Regions from separate parts of the Homo sapiens genome. Here region 2 is linked to region 1. The links come from fine-mapping of genetic effects on gene expression. Tissue or cell type: regulatory T cells. Region 1 holds a variant in brackets; the other region holds the start of a gene. All regions are shown on one strand. Distances are from middle to middle.

The links. PIP is the estimated chance that this variant, and not a neighbour inherited with it, causes the effect.
Region 2: it holds the start of KLHL2, and the variant in region 1 is fine-mapped to the expression of KLHL2 in regulatory T cells (Schmiedel 2018, PIP 0.95).

Annotation. Positions count from the first base shown.
Region 1 is chr4:165,258,876-165,261,639 of GRCh38, reverse strand. All of the region lies in intron 4 of KLHL2 (kelch like family member 2), which reads right to left. Among named protein-coding and RNA genes, the nearest start is that of GK3, 19 kb to the left of the region's middle. The variant A/T (reference allele first, on the strand shown) is at 1,594.
Region 2 is chr4:165,206,405-165,209,168 of GRCh38, reverse strand. It overlaps KLHL2 (kelch like family member 2), which reads right to left and starts at 1,608. Exons shown (of 15, transcript NM_007246.4): 1 at 1,267-1,608. The coding sequence starts at 1,292. RefSeq lists a silencer at 1,307-1,956 and an enhancer at 1,487-1,987.

The sequences.
Region 1 (2,764 bases):
AGGTCAGGCGTGGTGGCTCACGCCTGTAATCCCAGCACTTTAGGAGGCCGAGGCAGGTGGATCACTTGAGGTCAGGAGTTTGAGACCACCTGGCCAACATGGTGAAAGCCCAATCTACTCAAAATACAAAAATTAGCTGGGTGTAGTGGCACACACCTGTAGTCTCAGCTACTCAGGAGGCTGAGGAAGGAGCATCACTTGAACCCTGGAGGCAGAGGTTGCAATGAGCCGAGATCACACCACCGCACTCCAGCCTGGGTGACAGAGAGAGACTCCGTCTCAAAAAATAAAAATAAAAATAGAAAATAAAGTATAAATAACGTTACAGCCAAACTTTTTGCATGATATGTATAGTAGGTTTCATTATGTTATGAGAATGAATATCCACAGAAGGCTTTAATTTGTTGATAATTTTCAAATTGCAGGTTTTTCCATGCCAGTGTAATTGCGCTCTGAAGCAACATAAAGTGCGTTCCAAGATGCTTAATAGTACAGCCATTTAATTCAGCAAATTAAATTTCTACATATAGTTTAGAAAGTGGTCTTCAGTGTAAAATTCAATCTCTGTGAAATCTGCACAAATAGTATGATCACTCCTCTAATTAGCATTTTCCTAGAGAAAACAGTATAATACTTAAATTGTTTGGTCACACAGAACGATGAGGAAAAAGTGGTTGGGCAGGAAACAGGCTCACTTACACATTGTTGGTGGGAGCACATATTGGTCCAACCTCCATGAAGAACAATTTGTTTATTTCAAATTCAAAATTACAAATGCACATGTCCTCTGACCCAGCAATTTAACCTATAGATATGCTAACATATGCACAAAATCTCACATGCACAAGATATTCATTACAGCATTATTGTGGCTAATAGAAGTTAGAAAAAAGCCTTTAATGTCCATCATAAGGAGACTGATCAAATAATTGGAATCATCCATTCAATTGCAGTCATTCAAACGAAAGAGGAAACTAATAAATGAGATAATTTCTAAAATATATTCCTGAGTGAAAAAAAAATTAGTCGTTGGTATATTATGCTAACATATACACCCCCCCCACACACACACATATATGTGTGTGTAGCAGGCTTTTAAAATTTCATTTTGCTTTATTGATTTCAACTTAATCATTACCAAGTTCAGATCTACCGTATTAGGAGACCGAAATTCATAAAATTGTAGATTCTCCTATCTGGAAGGGGCATAACAAGTCATCTAGGTAGAAATATAAAGTTATTTCAACAGTGGTCCATGTGGCTAGATTATATTCACATATAATTTTTTTTGATGACAGTGAAACGTGGTTACATGCTTGACAAATATATGCTAAACATAAAATAAATGTAAGTCAAATGTACAAAAAGTTTGTTCATATTTTTCTTTTGTCAGTAAATCTTTTGAAATTGCCTTGGTTTTATGATGTAGTTTTACTAGGACTAAACTTCAATAGCTCATAATTATGTAATTAATTATATACAGCTTCAAAAGCAATTACTAATTGACCCAGCTTGCTAACATGACGCCTGGTGACCATCAGTCACTGATAATGAAAACAGGAAAACAGCTGGGGCCACATCAACTCCTAGCTT[A/T]TTTTGGGTGCCAAACAGCCACTTAAAACAAAATTTAAAATGCTCTGACTTCAGATGAACCACATCCCATGATCAAAACCACTCAAACAGCTGTCACCCTGCAAGCTGAAAGTTTTGAGATCAAATCAAATCAAACCTTCTAATTTGTGTGATGAAGAAACCACACCCTCGAGGGGTTAAACGGCTTGACCAAGTCATACAGCGAGTCATGGAAAGCTAGGGATATAATCAAATTGGTCAGCTCTTTGGTCTACTGTTCTAATACCTTCAACCCCAAATTTAGGTGCAGAATGGAAGTATTTGTATAATTTCTAAATCTCCAACACTGTCCTTTTCATGAAGAATAATAAAGACAACAACCACTTCAACAATGCATTATTGCAGTTACTTCCATTTACTGAGTAATTACTACATCAGGCACTGTGCTAAGCACTTGCCAGACAATAATATCTCATTATCTCCATCATACACAAGCGAATACAGAGGGTAGGAGAAGTTGGGTAACTTGCTAAAGGTCACACACCTGGTATGGGACAGGCCAAGCCTGCTATGAGAGCGGTACTAACCAAAATGTGCATAATGATTTTAGATGACATACAGATAAACTTCTTGCATTAATAGTTAAGAATATAGGTTCAGGGCAGGCTTGGTGGCTCACACCTGTAATCCCAGCACTTTGGGAGGCTAAGGTGGGCAGAGCATTTGAGGTCAGGAGTAGGAGTTCAAGACCAGCCTGGCCAACATAGCAAAACCTCGTTTCTACTAAAAATACAAAAATTAGCTGGGCATGGTGGTGCACACCTGTAATCCCAGCTACTTGAGAGGCTGAGGAAGGAGAATTGCTTGAACCCAGGAGGCGGAGGTTGCAGTGAGCCAAGATCGGACCACTGTACTCCAGCCTGGGTGACACAGTGAGACTCCATCTCAAAGAAAAAAAAAAAAGAATATAGGTTCATAGTTAGAAATACATTTTTTTAAGTTATTTTCCATTTATTTCAATAATACAATAATATAAACATTCCTTCTCAAGTAAACTTATTTAAGCAAAAATTGACTCACTGTAGAGAAAAACATTAAAAATTTAATAGCATCAGCACTTGTAGAATATAGCAAAATCCTGAAGCTGGCCCACAAATGATTACAAGTGATCAGAATTTGGAAAACCCTGATT
Region 2 (2,764 bases), 52 kb after region 1:
CCCTCAAAGCCACAGCTATCGAGAGGTGACTAAGCCCCTGCTTCTGTCAGCCCAGGAAGGCCAATTCAAGAGTCTTATCTACCCCCTAGATTTCCACGACCTGTTCCACTCAAGCTAAAAATTCTGAAACGCACTTTTAGAAACTGTCGTTCCAGAATCCCATTAGCTCTCCTAAAAGGGCTGAACATCAAAAAATTATTCAACCCAAGCCAAGTATCCTTATTTTGGCTGGAATTCTGCCAAATAACCACAAGAGACTGGTGCGGTACAATCGGCATGGAGTGAAGCTTGCCAAATTTGACCGGAGAACGACAAGCCTCCATGAATAAGCTCTCATGAAAAGGTAAACCATTCTTCAGGATGAGGTTTGTCTGCGATTTGAAAAGTCAGATTCAAAGGACTCTTGTTCCTTCCTAAGAGAAGAGGGAACCAAAATTGAAATTTTCGAAACTCCTGGGTATTTACAGTTCACTTTTACCAAGATGTTTTTAAAACTAAAAACTAAAATTTAAAAAAAAAACCCTTGTTCTGAATAATGCAATAATGTCTTCTACATAATGTTTCAGCTATTATTTCTAGAAAGTAATTCTGTTGCCAGTGATCTTGAATGTACTTGGGTACCAAAGAAAAAAGACACCTGTGCCTGGCAGGTCGATACGCTACTAATTTGCCCGAGGTACGAACGAAACAGAAGATGCTGATTTCTGGATAAAACGTTCTGCAGTGCCAGGTAAAAGAGGTCACATGCCCTGAACGGCCGCCGCTCATTTAGAGTGATGCAAAAGCTCCTCAGATATTAATTTTGTTAGAAATTCGGGGAATCAAGCAACCTAAGATCAATTCATTTAGACAGCGGGTGACTGGTACTTTCCAGTTTCCTTTTTTCAACGGACTCAGTGCATCCTAGCCTGATCTCTTATAAAGGGGTAGGCAAACTCGGCACCAGGTGCCCATGCATTTCAGGGAGGTACACACAGGACCTGCAGGGTCACCCATGCACAGCCCCACCCCGAATCTTCTATCCGCCCGAGATGGGGAAGACCCTTCCCCAGAAATCCTGGGCAGCGTTTTAAGTCACCGCCTGGCCAGGCTGAGTTTCCGTCCGCGTCCGCTCAGGACTGCGGGCACAGCGCCTCGTCACGCCCCGCATCTCCCACCTCCCGCCGGCCCCGGCGGCTGTCCCCAGAGCTGCGCCCGCGGCCGGCGACACGCGCCGCAGCGGCGCGCTTATCCGCAGCGGCGCAGCCCGCCCGCCCGCTCACTCACGCGGGAGGCAGCGGCGGCGTCTCCATTGTGGCTCCTCTCGGGCTTCAGAACGCAGGCACCGACCAACACAGCCAGCACCATTCCAGCCGCGGACGCCGGCACTGCCCGCCCGCCGAGCCGCGTTCCATCCGCCCCGGAGGGGGCGCCGCGCTCTCCTCACCGCGCGCCACCACCTGCGGCGGCGGCCCCCGCGGCCATGGCCCGCTCGGCCGGGCGCGCTCCGTCTACTGCGCGGCTCCCGCGCTCGCCCGAGTGCGGGGCGGCGGCGACGGGACCGGCGGGCGCGCGGGCTCGGCCACTTCCGGGTTCGGCCCCGGCCGGCGCCGACGCTGTGACGGGACTGCGATGCGGCCTCCCGCGGCGGCCGAGTACCCCTCCCTCGGCGCCTCCCCTTCCTCCTGCTGCTGCTGCTGCCGCTGCCGCTGCCGCTTCTGCTTCTGGAGGCGGGCGGGCGGGCGCCAGCCGGGTGCGGGGCGGGCGTGCCCAGACGCTGGCCCGCAGGCCGGGACGCGGGCGGCGGCCGCCCACAGCGGGTCTCTGGATCGCCGGGACGGGGGCGCTGGAAAATGGGAGCGGAGGGGGTTCTCCGTGCAGAAAAAGGGCGGCCGAACGCACGGCGTAATAATGCTCGGTATCCACTTGCTGCTCTGCTTCGCGGGCGTGTACACGTTATTCTTTTCATTTGTGCCTGTACCCAGGGAGATGGGAAGGGTAGGCATAACCAACCAGTGTCCTTACAAAGGGTGGCACTGAGGCAAGAAGAAGTGATTTGCCTGTCCAGTGTCCCAGGCAGGAAGCAGGCTCTCCCTCCTCAGTATGCTAGCCATTCCTTGGACAAGTGAAGTGAGCACCTGCTAAGCAAGGTTTTAGTGCTGCGGCTGTGACAGCAAAACCAAGTCTTTCTGCTTGTGGAGCTGTCCATCTAGACGGGGTGACGGAAACAGTAAGTGATGCTTACCATGAAGAAACATAAATGAGGATGAGGAGAGGGAAAGAGATTTTAGAAAGAGTGGTCAGAGAAGGCCTCTCAAAAGGCATGAGTTAAAGAGATGGAATAACAGGGGCTTTGAGTAATGCAAAGAATGCCTAGGGCAGAGGGAAGAGCAGCGTGGAGACTGCTAAGCAAGATCCTGCCTGCCTTGTTGAGGAACGGGAAGGAGAACAGTGCAGCTGGTGGTTCTCCAAGTATGCCCGCTGGAAGCAGTAGCACCTGCGAACTTGTTAGAGATGCGAATTTTCCAGTCCCACTTTAGCCCTACTGAACCAGAAACTCTGGGGGTGGGGCCCAGCAGCGTGTGCTTTAACAAGCTTTCCAGATGATGCTTGCTGGGGCCGCGAGGGTGGGAGACCCTCTAATGAAGCAGAGTGAGGTCAGGAGGACGGCGGCAGGAATGGGTGTGGCGAGGAGTAATCACAGATCACCCAGGCCTTGCAGGCCGTGATAAAGGACTTGGCTTTTACTGAGATTAGAAGCAATTAGAAAGTGGTGAGTAGCTTG